Linked DNA regions of Homo sapiens: region 2 is linked to region 1. Evidence: fine-mapped expression QTL. Tissue or cell type: nasal epithelium. Region 1 holds a variant in brackets; the other region holds the start of a gene. All regions are shown on one strand. Distances are from middle to middle.

Region 1 (8,335 bases):
CTTTAGTTGTCTCTGGAGTTAATGTTCTTTTACTATTCAATTCTGGATCCCCTCTCAAGACAGAGAACAAATTTGACATGGCATAAGTAGGGATGCCTAGAGTTGGCCAAATCCAATTAATATCTCCTAGCAATTTTTGAAAGTCATTTAATGTTTTTAATGTGTCTTTTCTTATTTCTATTTTTTGTGGTTTAATTTTCCTATCCTCTACCTGCACTCTGAAATAATGAAAAGGAGTAGAGGTCTCAATCTTATCAGATGCTATTGTCAGCCCTGTGTTTTAAACCTCTGTTTGCAGAAATGTGTAACAGCCAATTAATTTGTCTCTGGTTTTTGCAGCACACAAAATATCATCAACATAATGAATGATATAATAGTCTGAAAATTTGTCTCTAACTGGTTGAAGAGCTTGAGCTACAAAAGTCTGACAAATAGTTGGACTATTAAGCCTTCCCTGAGGCAACACTTTCCACTGAAACCTGGTGGCTGGTTCTTTATTATTTATGGCTGGTATAGTAAAAGCAAATTTTTCAAAATCCTGTTTTGCCAGAGGAGCGGTAAAAAAGCAATCCTTCAGATGAATTATAATTAAAGGCAAATCTTTGGGGATTATGGCCAGAGAGGGCAACCCAGTTGAGAGAGCCCCCCAGGGGTTGAATTACTGCATTGACAGCTCTTAAGTTGGTCAGCATGCCCCATCGGCTGGAATTTTTATGAATTACAAACACTGGAGAATCTAAGGAAAGAACATTGGTGAAACATGTCCTTTTTACAATAGTTTTTAAACTACTTTATGTAGCGCCCCCAACTATTCCTTAGGGAGCAGCCACTGTTTGACCCAGACGGGATGCTGCAGGGTGAGTCTGAATTGCTCCTTCACCATAGTGAACTGCAGGTTGGGCAATAATGGGTGCCACAAATGAGTCACAGTGAGCCTAGTTTCAGGCTCCCTCCTCCAGCACTCACTCGGCTGAGGAGGAGGTGGCCATCCTGGTTTTAGCCCCAAATGGCCCTGATGGTTCTGGACCTTTTTTTTCTAATTTTAATCTTTCAGGATATATTACCACCTGTAATTGATTGTAGCCAATATTTTGTGTTGACCAAGCCATTAAAGATCTGCTACACATTTACAATGTGAACTTTTCACACATTTCACAATTACAATGTGAAATGGCATGAATTTTTAAAAAATGAATGAATATAAGGGAAGCCAGTTCCTAATGATTCGGGTGTTAACATGGATTTTTGTGGATGCTTATTGGTCCCTTTTGCAACATAACTCTCAATGAGTAGCCCAATGAACCACCTTGGAAGCACTGGCCCCATCCTAAGTCCTCCTAGGCTTCTTGTCCTTATTTCCCATGCCTCATATAAGACTTTACATTGGAGAAAAACTTCATCCCCTACTGTTTTGTTCTGTTGCATTATAGGCATACAGCACCATTTTCAACATAAAACATAAAAACCCATTCAAAATGGAGGTGATGGTAGATGCCTGGACAGATTACCAGATCATCATTACTCAGCCTCAGAACCAGGTAGGAGCAATAGTTACTGAATACCAGGGCAGTCACTCTCCAGACATTCTCTGTGTGGCAATGAGGGAACTGAAACTGAGGAGTGGTGAGAAGAATGTTGACACTGTTGACGTATGCAGGTTTTGGAAGGGCTGTTTGGGAGAGAGGGTAGGGCAGTGAGATAAGGCTTGAACTTAGATCCAGTGATCAATAACCCTGGATGTGTAAATAAAATTAGGATTCCAAGCACTCAGTCTATTCCATCAAAATTCTGATCATAGGACTACATCCCAACCTAGACTTCTATGGCTGAAAGTGATTAAGAAGTGTTTTCACCTGCGAGGACTCTCAAGTGGAAGTGTCATCAGCAGAGGGTAGGCAGACATGTAGAGCCAGACCAAGCTGTCTATTCTAGGTACTATCTGGCTCTGGAATGTTAGTTCTTTCCAAAAGTTTATCTATTCACATGTACTCCAAGAGCCAATCACTGAGCCAGCCTCAGAGTCCTTCCTGGGTTAGGATTAGCTCAGGTGTCACCTTGCCAAAAACCCGGAGCCTTGCCAAACCTGTTTCTTATATTTTTTCCATACCTTAGGCACCTTCTCTTTTAAATCCTTAACATACACCATTTTGGTTACACTTCCCATTCGAGACAATGGAGCTATTTACTCACCCTCTCAAGGGCAGCTCACTTTAGTGCCCTAAAAGAAAGACACTATCTTCAGTGTATAAATAGTGAGTTATTCTTGGAGCGACTGCAAGGCCATTTTCTACACCTATCTTAGAAAAACAGAATGTTTCAAACAAGTTAATCTCTAGTATTCTAGGCCTATGCAAGAGTATTTTGTAATTGTAGGGCTATGTATGATATTTGTTGTATCTGGAGATAAAAAATGACTGGGATCATTACACCAACTCTTACCACATCTTCACCAAAGCTCCTGACAACTTAGAGGAGGTCACGCTCCGAGGTTATCAACTGGGAGCAAACTTTCCAGATCCAATCTAACTAGTCTGAGTTAAAAGAAAAGATGCGTGGTTTATTCCTAGCTGATATGGAAGGTATAAAGCAGTACCTGTCTTTCTCCTCTCTCCAGGTTGACAGGAGGGCTTGGATGAAGCAATAAGAAAGGTTGCAACTTCAAAATCAGTGCAGGTAGATTACATGAAAACCATGCTCTTTATACCGGAATTACCAAAGAAACACAAGACTGCAAGTAATGACAATATGGGGTTATTTAAAATGGGTGATGATAAGAAGTGAGATTTTACGTTTTACTTCCCAAATTCCTTGATAGAATTATTGAGTTGCCACAAAGGCTGTACTTGGAAGTGTAGAATTTGAGACTAAATTATGATGGGCTACAAAATTGCATGGGTAAAGAAAGGGCGTCACGTTAGGAACTGTGTGCTGAGCATGAACAGAGCCTTCATTAGACAAGGTCTTTATGCATATTATTTCACTTAGAGCTCACAAGAGTCCTTCGGAGAGGGCAATGGACATCATGGTGGCATCAAAAAATGTTTACTGAAACTATTTATATCTTACAAAATGCTACATGCTTATAGAAAGTATATAAGCATACAAAATGAAAAATAAAATCTGTCCTCTTGGGTTCCCCTGCTAGGTGTAAATAATTTTGACACTGATATGTATGCTTTTAGTACTCCATATGAGTTATGTATTTATTTTTGCAATATGTACACATAATTTACGGCACTTTCTGAAATGAATATCATCATAAATAGATTATTGAACAGTTGTATAAATATTTCTGAAAGATGAATTACCAGAATTAAAACTGTTGAGTCAAAGACTATGCATAATAAATGAATGATATTTCTAAACTGGATGGTAAGATTTTCATAAATTTAATGTGTGATATCATAACTTATGAAACAACCTAAACATCCAGTAATGGGGAAATAGAAAAAATCATTATGGTACATTAAAACATTAGAATACTATGAAGCCATTACAAAGAATGAAGCAGCTCTACATGACAGATTAGAAAATATTTCCAAAATAGTTTGCTATGTAAAAAAACATGAGGTGGATAGAACAATGTATATAGTATGCTACCATTTGTGAAAATAAACAAATGTATGTACATATCTAAAATTGCATAGATTTATGGGAAACTTGTACAAAAT[A/G]TATTGGTATTAGTGGTTGCTTCTAGAGAAAGTAATTGGGTAATAGGAGATCAGAGAAAGAAGAGAGATTTGCTTTCCTCTAGTAATCCATTTATGCTTAATAATTTTGTTACTAATTGAAAAAATAAATAGAATTTAAACACACATTCACAGATATGTTTGATTTAGCCAGAAAAGTTAACAGTCTTCAAATACTGCTTTGCCCCACCAGTGTTCCCATGAGATTGTTAAGGGGAACATATACACAGGGAACAATGATAAATGGGGATTAAATTATATTTAGTAGTATAACTCTGGAAGTCTGGCATGAAGTACCTGCCCTAAGGTGATTCCTCTAAGCCTACGCATGGATATCTTTATATCTTGCCATTCTAGGTTTGGCTATCCACAGGAGAGGGGTGCAGGAAAGCGTACTTGAGATCTTTCAGGAAGCAAGCCCAGGATCAGGTTAGGCATGGAAGTGAGCAAAAACAAAGCATCACCCATAGAAAACTTAGCGTTCTGTTACCCACCCACTGGCAAACATGAAGTGACTCTGAAACTGACAAACTTCTCAAAAGTCTTCCTCCCTGGAGAGGGGCAAAAATTCCTGGAGATCTTCTCTCTTTCACTATTTCCATATTTACAGAGGATATTACTATAATTTTACAAACAAGAAAACTGAGTCTTACATAACTTTTCCAAAAGAAAATAATCAGGATTAGAATCCCAAAGGTTAGTACCAAAAATTTAGTATTCTTTTTCCTATATTGCAGCTTCTTAAACTGCGTTTCTGGGTATGTGATGACAGGCTTTGGGACACATGAAGATGTAAGATCAGCATTGTTCTCATCTTCCTGTAAAATATGTTTGATTGGAATATCTGTTCAACGAATTACTATCTTGTATATTTAGATATTTTGTGGAGTAGAACTCAAAATGCACATGATTTCATACACGCATCTTTCAAGTAAATTCAGCCACGTGGAGGGCTTCTCTGGTCTATATCCTCACTCTTTTAAAGACGTGTTCATTTTCTTCCTTAGGATACTTAACGGGACATTTTGAGATGTCCTATAACATATCATATTATCTGTCTGCTATTAAATACACCATAAAACACGGTGTTCCCCCACCAATTATTTGGAAACATTTTGAAGCAGGAATAGAAAAGGTAGTTGTAATACAGCTATTGCCTCCTCTAGGCTGTAGGATCCTTAAGGAAAGGAATGGTGTTATTGGAATTTCAGTGTTTGATAATATTGGCTGAATAAAGGTAATTTTTTTTTTCTTCATAGGGAAGGAAACTTTTCAAACATGTTCTTAGGTGTTTCACATGCAGGTCTTGTAAATGAACACTGGGCCTTTGGGAAAAATGAGAGGAGCTTTAAATATATTGAACGCTGCATCCAGGATTTTCTAGGATTTGGTGTGCTGGGTCCAGAGGCACAGCTTGTCTCTTGGCTTGTGATGGGACAGTCCAGTGAGTTGAGAATGGGTTATACTGTCCCCAAACACAGAAACCAAGGCAACATGTCGCAAATTGGTTATCATCTTGAAAGTTATCTTTCTCAGAAAGAAATCCCATTTTATGCTCATGCGGCAGATAATAGTGAGAAAATCCTACAGGCACTGAAAAATGTTGGGTTTAAGATTTGACCTTGTGGCTGGCATCAGTGGAAATGCATCCCCAAGAAATATTGTTGATTAGTTCCACTGTCCATTTCAAATCTTATCAGTAGAAAATCATTAATTCAAACACAAATATGATGATGTACATTAGCACAAAAGACACCTGATTATCCAGGATCTGGGTATTATTTAAGCTCACCCTTAACATTTTTACCCTCCTCTTCCTCTGTATTCTTACAGAAAATTAGAAGCTCAATCCTATGGTCTCATAATTTCATTTATGGTGACAGACATCTCAGAATTAAAATCACCCAATGCCAATCATTAGTGTCAAGATAACCCTTTATAGCAACACTTTCTTAAATGAAGATGACTTCTTTGATGAAAAAAATTGCTTTTTATTCTGAGTACCCTCTGAGGAGCTTTGAGATGCTCAGCTAAATTAAATTTTGTGGCTAGGAGTGAAAATTTGGTTTTCTTACTTGCTTTTTATCACAAGGGGTTGCTAGGTTGAGTTGCAAATTTAAAGCTTAACTTTAAATTTTCAAGATGATTCTTATGTCTATGATGTATTAGTTTTCTTTTGTCATTATAACAAATTATGATAAATATGATTACTTAAAGCAACACAATGTGTTATATTTATGGCAGTCGGAAGTTCAGAATAGGATTTATGGGGCTAAAACCGACATGTTGGCAGGGCCAGCTCTTTCTGGAGGCAATGTGGGTAAATCAGCTCCCTTGCCTTTTCCAGATCATAGAGGCTGTCCTCACTCCTTAGCTTGGGTCTCTGAATCACATCATGTTTTATCTCTCTGCTTTCATCATCATCGCATCACATTCTTCTCTTCTGCACTCACATTTCCTTCTGCCTTCCAATTTTTTTCTTTCTTTCTTTCTTTCTTTTTTTTTTTTTTTTTTTTTTGAGACAGAGTCTCACTCTGTAGCCCAGGGTGGACTACAGTGATGTGAACTTGGCTCACTACAACCTCTGCTTCCCAGGTCCCAGTTCAAGCAATTCTCCTGCCTCAGCCTCCCAAGTAGCTGGGATTGCAGGCATGTACCACCATTCCCAGCTAATTTTTGTATTTTTAGTAGAGACGGGGTTTCACCATGTTAGCAGAGTTCCAATGGCAAATATGAATGGCAGAGTGGAAGACCAGAGCCAAAGGAGGCCACCTTTTGATCATGAAGTGTAATTGTTTTTAAGATCAGCGATTCAGAATTGTAATATAAGCGCTCAAATAGAAAGTTCTAATGATAGTGCATGGCATGTGTCCTTTCCATCATCTAGATTTTCCGCTTTTTTTGTCTGGCTCACTCCTACTCACTCTCCAGTCCTCACCTTAGTGGTCACTTCCCCTGGAATGCCCGTGACCCTTTAAGATAGCAGTGGCAAACACCAAATGCTGAACTTATAACCAGATTCACATGCAACACCTTGCCCTGTGCCATGCTTCAATAATGATGAGGAAGTGAGAAAGAGTAGGAGAAAGGAGGCACAACAAATGTTATTTCCATAGCAGAGGCCCCAAGGCCAGTCCACTTGATTCTCTAGATTTCCTTTTCTGCGTAACAATGATGAAAGGTAGCCTAGGAAAGCCATTTGTCTGAGACTTTACTTTGATACCTTGCTAGTCACTAAACAAAGAGACTGATTCCATTCTTTAGTGTAGCCATTGCCTCAATTCATATATATCAGGGTTATTTATTTCCAATAAAGTATCCATATAGATTAGGTATATTCTAATGACAATTTTATTAAAGTCCTTCATTTATCTTCCAGATAGCAGATTCTGTCAACCACATTTCATAAAGAGTTCTGATTCTAAGAGGTAAGAACTGAGCCTGGCTTTCTAGTTACATGTTTACTACTAAACCCGTCCTTCCCTACTACACTTATGCATATTTAAAGACTATACTCTCCCCTGCCTCCAGCCTGGATTGTAAGTTCCACAAGAGCATGGCTGTGTCTTCTAACATCAAGTCTCTATGTTAGAAAAGCTCCTGGCATATCATAAATGCCGAATAAACATTTGTAAGTGAAGAAACCTATTCTATGGTTTCTTCTACGGATATATTAAGAGATGGCTTGCACAAGATAGCTAGGTAGCTTCATTGTCTAAAATGGAACTAGATTCTCCGGGTATCAGGTCCATTGGTGGTACTTACACGTGGCCTCAAAGGAACAGAACTGCCCCACAAATCTGTGGGAGTCATCATTTACTTCTAGAAAAGAGAAGTAAAATGGACTATTATTCTGATGCAGATATTTCATGAATCCCATGATCACCCGTGCCATGTCGTCTGCCCTTTGGTATTTTTCCATGCTGTAGGCTATTCCTACATCACAAGAAGAGTCCAAGGTTAATCATGATACCGGAGCCCCATCTGGACCCAGCATACAGGCTGCTGGCAGGCCTCCTATACAGTGCTTGATGTAACGCCAGCTCCTCTCATTCTTCCTGCACCTCCAGTTATCATTTACCAGCCCTGAATAAGAGATAACCAACAGGGCATTCTTAAAGTTGGGAGTTTCACCATAGAAAACAAAAAGAAAGACAACAACATTCATCCTCACCCCTGTAATTTCTGGGTGCCATCACATTCTAGAGATCCCAGGGACTCTTCTTGTCTAATGACCCACCATTGCAAGCTGTGTATTTTGACCATTGACAACTTTTATTCATCCCAAAGCATGAATTCATCCTCTTTTCATTCCAAAACTCACTTATGTGAATAACAAAAATGTACAAGGAATAGCAATTATAAATGACCAGCACATGTTTTTGTCTCTCAAATTCATCATCTGGGTGGCCTGACTCAGCTCAGCTTCCAGCTTGCTTTTATTGGAGTCATGGAACTTCAGGATATTCTCCATAATAAAGAGGACTGCTCTTGATTGCTCTACCTTCAGTGACTTTGAAAATGCAGCCACTCTTATCCCCTCACCTAAACTTTCTTGAAGACCTGGGAAGAAAGCCAAGAAAGCAATATTGTCAGACATGGAGTTCTCTACTTACACTGCTCCCACCTGATTAATACATCAATGC
Region 2 (8,335 bases), 110 kb before region 1:
GGAGAACAGGAAATTATATAGAGTGATGGAACCACACAAGAAATTATTTAGGGTGATGGAACTGCTTTGCTTCTGGATTTTGGTCATGGTTACATTACTGCAGGCATTTGTTATAAGCCATTCAACTGTATACCAAAAAGACTGAATTTTACTGTATATGAAATACATAAATTTAAAGGAAACAATAAAAGTTAAAGCCTTTCAAATAATCTGTAAGACAATTAATTGGGTGTGGGGGTTTTTGTGTTCATTTCTATCATCTTTTTTTGTATCTTCTACTTTTGCCACTTTTTCTGAATTTATATTCCCTTGCTTTGTTGCCTCCTTTACTTTGATTTTTCCCTCTCATTCTATTTTCTAGACGAACAGTTTGGCAGTTTTATACTCTAGTTCTGTTCTATAATTGGATGCCCTAGACTAGTACTGCCCAATAGAATGTCTGCAGTGACGGAAATGTTCTACATCTGCACTGTCTAATTCCACAGCCACATGTGGTTCTTAAGTACTTGACACGTGATATAACTGAGAATTTGTACTATTGACCTTTTTCATTATTTGATTTTAGTTAAGTTGAATTTAAATTTAAATTTACATAATCACATGTGATTAGTGGCAATTGTCTTGAACGAAATAGCCCTAATCATTTTAACATTAATATTTAACTTAACAAAGTCTTAAGTGAATTGAATAACTCCTCCTAAGCAATACAAAGATAAAGTCTGTAAACACATCTCCTTTATTTACAGAAGGAAATCCAAAAACCTACACATGGAATTCAAAGAAAAAAAAGATACTGCAGCTATTTTCCAGAAAGCTATTCTACCTCTCTCCCACTTTTTAGGAGCCATACACGTATGGAAATGAATTCATGACAGCTTAAGAATATCTATATGTGCCCTCTCAGTCACAAGGTTTTGTGTTGAAATGGGTGAGCTACTTAAGTTGGGACAATTAGATGGCAAAGAGAAGTTTCCTCAGGAAACCAGGATAGACTCATTATAGGGAGAGTAAAGCATCTGATATTACTGCAGCTCTATTTGTCACTATGCAGAAAGCCAGCCAGGGGATAACATGAAAAGCAGAACACAGAGACTGAACACACAAACAAGTCCTTAAAGAAACTGTATACCACTGAATTAAGAGCTCAGCTGAATTCTGGAATGTCCACTCATGTGAACCAGCGAATCCATTTTATTGTTTCACAATTAGAAAATATTTTTACTGGAAATGTGGAAAGCTCTTATTGATATAAAGCCTACTGTGATCTTGGCACCATACTACCTTACCAGTATAGAAAACAGTATTTGCCTACCATATTCTTGAATTCTCCTTATAAAGCATCAAATGCAGCTATCCTGTTCCCCAAATATGTTTTCCTGTGTACACGACTTTACTTAGGCCATTCCTTCATCCTTGATACACTAGTGAAATGTTATTCATTCTTTTTAAAAAATAACTTAGTTTTAGACATACAAAATGCATAATTAATGTACATAATTAATGTATGCAACTTGATGAGTATGGAGATACATTATCACCACAATCTATGCCATCAACCTATCTATCACCTCCCAAAGTCTCTTCCTGCCCTCTTATTATTTTTGTAATTAGAACACTTAACATAAGATCTATCATTTTAGCAAGAACTTGAGTATACAACAGTGTTATTAACTATAGGCACCCATGCTGTACAGATCCCTAGAACTTATTCACCTTGTATAAGGAAACTTTGTACCCCTTGACTAATACCTCCATTTTTCTCTATTCCCAGCCCAACAACCACTTCGACACCTATGAGTTTGACAATTTTAGATTTATTATTCATTAATAAATCATTTCTCATATGACGCTGCTGTAGTTTCCTAAGTCTGAATTAAGCATTCTTCTCTCTGTACTCTAAAATCACTTGTTTATGTCTCAATTTTGTATTATCATTTTGCATATTTTGAGCAAAATAGTGTGGGTCAAAAACCAGTCTCTGCAGTCTGATGGACTAGGTTTAAATCCTTGCTCTGAAGTCCATTACTTCTGCAACTATAAGCAAGTTGAGCTTCAGTTTCTTCTTTTATAAAATAAGTATGATAATAATACCTACTGCATAGTTCTATTAAGTGTTAAATGAGATAATACATATGATGGGACACAATTCTAGGCACACAGTGTTTCCTCAGAAAACATTAGCTAATTATTTTTGCCTGTCTACACTTTCCAAGACTTTAAGTGTCTATATTGTTTGTTAGTCATCTTGTTGTCTTAACATACGTTTAGCATTGTTAACTCTATCATTTTGCTTTCCACAAGCACTTATGTGTATGAGCTCCCCAAATATATTTTAAACTACCTAAGAGAAGGGCTTATAACGACCATTGTTTAAGAACTTATCTCCAAGATCCTCATATGGCACTATAGTTAGACTATCACTCCTCTGAGGAGTTGTAAAAAAGTAGATATACCTTTGAAACTTCAGGTCTAGTCCTCTGGTCATCTTCCATAGCGCTAAATGACTTGTTTTCTTCAGTCTTCATGGAATTCATGATGAGTTCAAAGAGAATGTAACTAACTTCTACTACTCGATAAGATGGAGAAACAAGGATTGAATTTATTCTGCCACCTGAAATGTCTAAAAAAACCAAAAAAACAAGATCTATGAAATAACCACTTTCAAACACTGGAGATCAGGTGGTGTGGGACCTCATCTCTGATATCTGAGAAGAAAATCATATGAGGTAAGCCCTATGGCTATTTAGCTTACTGTATGGAGTTTCCAAGGCATATCTTAGGAAGGAGAAACAGGCAGAGTCTAGTAGTTTCCCTGATTTGAGAAGACAAGCAAGGAGTTTTGGGAGGCCAAGATGACTGGAGCTTGTATGACAGAGTACTAGGGAGAAGACAGCCACAGGAGCACACAGTATGAGAGATCTGCAGTGGGTATCCCTTGAGATTTCAGCTTGGTCAATGCATGAGTGGAACGAAACTGTTGAAAAGGAACAGGAAAAGAAGTACCCAAAAGAAGCAGATGTAACAATTTCTGAGGCTCATACAGGACTGTGTATAATTTCAATTCCCAAAAATCCGACTAGAAAACTTCATAATTCATGAAGTATCAGGGAGACTACTCTGCAAGGTATTTCTTCCGCAGTAGGACAAAATTAGCCCTAGTTCTGCTCCCACCTAATAAATAAAAGCAAGCTTCGAAAGTATAAAATGGTTTCCATGTAAAATATGAACATACTAGAACAAAGCTCAAGAATATTGATAGGAATGTAAAAATTTCTGGCACCCAAAGTTGTGAAATTAACAAAGCTTGATATCTAATAAAAAAATCAGCAGGCACTTAAAAAGTGGATAAATATGACCCATAATGACTAGAAATATCAGTGAATAGAGACAGGTCCAGAAGTGAGAGAGAAGATAGAACTAGCAGTCAGAAACATTAAAAGTCATTACCTTGAATTTCTGGCCAAAATGGAGTAACAGGGACTGGATTTCCCCCTAGTATGAAAACAAAACAAAACAAAAAAGAGCAAAACATATGAAACAATGGTTTGCAAGGAACTGGACATTATGCAATTAAGGACAGTGACAATTGAAATGTATCCTATAATCCACTTTAGCAGACTACCTTGAGGAATTCCAGGCCAGTGTGGCAAGGAAGGGCAGCAAGACAAAACCAGTAGGAATTCCAGATTTAAGGAGACAAAGCTGAGAGACTAAGGTGACAAGAGGTCACAGGCCAAAGACATGGTGGGAGACCTGCACAGAGAGGGAACTCTGGATATATGAAGAGGGTTCCCCTAAAGCATTCAGCTGTGTACTGATCAGAGCAGCAGCTGAGAAAACTTTCCAAGGCCAGGAAAGAACCACCCTAAAACTGTCATAGTCTAACTTTCCACCAACCCTCTCCCTGTAACCCTTTTAGGGATCCCCATTTCCTCATTTCTAGATTAAGGACTTTGGCTCAGATGAAACTTTTATTGTTCGTGTGAATTGGTTCCTCTAAGCTTTTTAAAAAGGATTCCAGATCCCACCCTCACAGACTCTGATTCAGTATGTCGGGGTGTGGCTATGGAATCTGCATTTTTACCTGCCTCACTCCACAACCCCCGCCTCAAAGGCGCACCAAGTTCTTTGAACAGCTGCCTCTGTCACCGCAGGATGACCTCAATGCTTTCCTAAAGCCCCAGAACCTATGAAGGTAACCTGTGCTTGAAGCTGTGCTTGCTTACAGAAACAGAGACTGGATGTCAGTAACCACCGTGCTACAAGATGGGAAACGAACTTAGAAGCGCTACCCTAACCTGAATCCTTGCTGATTACCATACCTCAATCTGTGCCTCGGGGAGAAACGCAGCTTGCTAGGCACATGTAGTGTTGGGTGGCAACAGAAAATAGGAGACTGCCACACTCAGCTGTTTCTGGAAAGCCCCGTCTCTTTCCAGAAATCCTTGCTTTCCAACTACCTGCCCTAAAAGACCTTAAGAAGCACCCTCACACTACACTCCAGGCACTTTGAGCAGGAGCTCTCCTACTCCATTCCTTGATCAGTGAATAGTTTCTGCTCTGCTTAACCGAACCTGGTCTCCTTCTATGGGCGCGAACGGCACCGGGCAGGGAAAGGACCCACCAGGGTCAAACGACCCTCTCGAGATTCAGGAACACCCAGATGATCTCTAAGTATCTCTTCAGGAGTACAACTCTTGGCCTTTGAAGCTGAGACAGGGGGAAGGGAATTACAACGGGCGGCTGCCCAGCTCCCCATCCAAAACCCCCTTGACTTTGGGCTGAGGTCCTTCTGCCTACTGCCCTTGTCAGCCATCCCCCTAAGAACTCCAGGTCCGACCCGGGAAAAGAAAAACCACTCACAGAACCGGAGAGTCTGTCCACACGGTGCAAGTGCCCGTCAGTGCCCGCCGCTCTGGATTTGCAGGTGCTGGAAAGACTGCTCTTTTATATCTCTCAGCTGAACTTTTCCCGCCTAGAAGGGCTCGCCCGTGCGCGGCAGGAGCCTGGGAACTGACACTCTCGCTGGCCAATGGACGAAGAGTCTCTGGAGGCTGTTTTTCTCTCATTGGATGTAAATGACTCATCTCTCATCCACTGTGGAAGCCAATTATCATCACTCCAGACAGTGATTGAAGGGAAGGACCGGATGAGCGCGCAGCGCGCGCAGGTGGGTCTGAAGGCCGGGCCGAGGGTACTGCGCGCCAACCCGCCCACCCTCCCTATTTGTCTGGATGACCCTTCCCGGTCTCAGTGATCCCCTCCCCGGCACCACTCAGTCCACGGCCAGTTCCCGTGTCCCAGGATAAACTAAGCAATCACCGCCCTGCTCTTTCCCGCTCATGGGCGTCCCCTGTCTCCCAGTGGAGGCTAGGGAGGAGCTGCGCGGTAGCTGGGCGGAGTGGGAGGTGCCTGGAGGTTTCGCGCTTTCTCCGACTTTTGATTGCCAGCGCGCTGGCGGGAGCCGCGCGCTGGCGGCAGCTGCAGGGCGAATAGCCCGCCAAGTTGCTTAGGTGTGTGGCAGTTGCTGCCTTTCTGCAGCGGCGGGGTGGGCGACGGTGGCGGGATGAGCATCCAGGCGGGATCCTTTGGCGGCAGCAGCAGAGAGAGCTCCACCCGGATAATGCAGAGGCCCAGGCTCCAGCGGACTTCAAGTCCCAGAGCAGGCTGCACCCGCGTCTGCGTGAAATCTAAAGGGACTTGGCCTGATCACAAATGAGCTAACTTCGCGGCGGGGCTGGCGAACACAGACAATGCCAGCCTGGAGGAGGCAGTGGCCAGCACTGCTTAGGCCTCGTTCCCAGGACGCGCATTACTGAGTGCTGTACTTTACCCTTTGGATGAAGGCTCCAGAGTACGACCTCCCCAAACTGATATCAAAGAAGTGCTTTGCATGGGGCTTGAGAAAACATCTTACTGTTTAAGAAAAGAACGTCTTACTGTCTGAGAAGCTGAATAGAATGAGATGCCATCAGTATTGGGTGTTATTTTTCAGAAGTTGCTCAAAGAAGGAGAGAAGATGGTTAAGTGGGGATGGAGACAATTATTTTGTAACTCATAGAAGGACAGATGTTTATGTAACAGTTGATAGTTTTGGTGGAATAATCATGAGCATGTTTCTGAAATTAATATAAAATATACAGAGACCCCTAAAATCACTGCTTAAATTACACGGGTCTTGAGGTGTTCGGAAAGAGCAAACTTTGGAAGTATAATTGTAAAAATAATGTCATACAGACAAAGAGAAGAGAAAACTTAACGACAGCTTTCTTAAATCGCTGTTATTCTTGAATCATCTGAAAGCAGTACACGTGCCTGGCACCAATATACATCAGAGAGTAAATCATTGCACAAGGAGACTTGATCTTCTTTTTTTGTAGAATCTGGAGGAAACAAATCTATGAAAAGCAAGAGATGGTAGAGAATGGTGTTGTCGAAATTGCCTGACATCATTGGAGATAGAGAATTTGCCCTGGTAAAAGGTGCTCCTCAGGGAGGAGCATCTGCACATTCCATTAGCATAAAGCCCCTGGTGGGCCATATGAAGAAGTCTGGATTTTGCTATAAATGTGAAATTTATTTTAAATGGAGGATTTGAAGCAGGGGGGTAATATACCCTGACATATTTTAAAAAATCACCCTAGCAGCGTTTGTGCGGGGTAAAGACTCTGGGAGGACAAGAAGAGATGTGGAAGGGAGAAGGCAGCTAAGAGTCTGTCCCAGGATTGCAAAGATGTTGGAGCCCGACCTCAGATGGTAATGGTGGAAGTGTTAGAAATGGCTGGATTCCACATTTATTTTGAAGGGCCAGCCCTTGGAATTTGCTTATGGATGTTCCATAAATAAGAGAAACAGAGGGCTCAATGACGATTCCTGGGCTTTTGACTTGAGCAACTAGAAGGATGGGGAAGTCTGAGGACAGAGATGCTGTGTGTGTCAGGAGTGGGGTGTGTGTGTGTGTGTGTGTGTAAAATTCTACTTTTGACATGTCGAATTGGAGATGCTAATCCACTCCAACTGAAAAATAAGGAGGGAAGTGGACATTCAACACATGATGACAGGAAGACAGGGAAGCTGGGACTTATGATGGTAACAATGTTGGCCATTAACTGAGAATTTTTTTTTTTTTTGACACAGAGTCTTGCTCTATTGCTCAGGCTGGAGTGCAGTGGCATGATGTCGGTTCACTGCAACCTCCACCTCCTGTGTTCAAGCGATTCTCATACCTCAGCCTCCTGAGCAGCTGGGATTACAGGAGCCTGCCACCATGCCCAGCTAACTTTTGTTTTTCTAGTGGAGATGGGGTTTCATCATGTTGGCCAGGCTGGGGTCGAACTCCTGGCCTCAGGTGCTCTGCCTGCCTCAGCCTCCCAAAGTACTGGGATTACAGATGTAAGCCACCACGTCAGGCCTAAGAAATATAATTAAAGTACAGGGAAAATTAAAAGAAAGTTCACAGAGAGATATCACGGCAAATGATAAATACAAAAGCCTGCCTTGTTTCCCATACCCCCTGTGTCTTAGATTCCCTGAATTTTACCTCCCAGTGGACCGTGCTTGTCCCTTTGTAATGGCGCTCCAAGCAGCACTGCTGCACACCAATTCCTGAGCTTCCCTGCTTCTTGAGCTTAGGAATAGTTGTGCTTCTATTTCCTGTTTATTTGCTCATCACTGGAGTAGCAACTGAACCACACAATTGGGATAAGTACCCTGAGGCCATTTTGGGAGTAATCTTCCATTTCTTCCTTACGTATAAAACTGCCCCTCACAGAGAAACTGTCTAGAGTGATAGGTCCAGAGTAGAGCTCTAGCTTTGCTTTACCCTTTGCAGCTGTGCTCTGAGAGCTTTGATGCAATCCCACTGCAACTGGAATCAGTGACAGAGTAGGGATGCTCAGGGAATCTGTTGGGCCACCAAAGAAAACTCACTTCTAGCTAATGCTTATCTGGGGCTATGGAAGTTGTCTAACATCCCTGGGGACAGAGTGTTTGCCCTGAAAAGGAACATTCCCTTGGCACAAAGTATCCTGTTGGCTGGATTTTATTATAAATGTGACAAGAATGCTTTTGGCCAGTAACTGGTGGTTGGGTCAGTTTGTGTTTTGTAAACCCATAAAGAGGAAAAGGCTCTCATGTGGTTGGGAGAGGTGGGAATGGATCATGCACTAAGGTCAGGTCTGGTGAAGTTAGGGAATAAGGCCAGTGTTTACGAAGAGTGATTCCTTCATGAACCCCTAAAAGATGCTCTGGAACACTACCAGTAGGATGATGTCTGTATGTAGAGGTGCAGATGACATGTTCTCGGAATACAGAGGAAGGCACCACTGCCTCTACC

What was found. PIP is the estimated chance that this variant, and not a neighbour inherited with it, causes the effect.
Region 2: it holds the start of FAM111B, and the variant in region 1 is fine-mapped to the expression of FAM111B in nasal epithelium (TOPMed, PIP 0.94).

What each region holds. Positions count from the first base shown.
Region 1 is chr11:58,992,785-59,001,119 of GRCh38, reverse strand. GLYATL1-AS1 (GLYATL1 antisense RNA 1) reads left to right here. Exons shown (of 6, transcript NR_033853.2): 4 at 7,069-7,117. It also overlaps the pseudogene GLYATL1P1 and the pseudogene LOC100287485. Among named protein-coding and RNA genes, the nearest start is that of GLYATL1, 57 kb to the right of the region's middle. The variant A/G (reference allele first, on the strand shown) is at 3,672.
Region 2 is chr11:59,103,825-59,112,159 of GRCh38, reverse strand. FAM111B (FAM111 trypsin like peptidase B) reads right to left here and starts at 4,923. Exons shown (of 4, transcript NM_198947.4): 1 at 4,864-4,923; 2 at 3,448-3,492; 3 at 2,454-2,620. The coding sequence starts at 2,534. It overlaps LOC105369315 (a long non-coding RNA gene), which reads left to right and starts at 5,435. Exons shown (of 3, transcript XR_007062680.1): 1 at 5,435-8,335. RefSeq lists enhancers at 3,755-3,804, 4,945-5,034.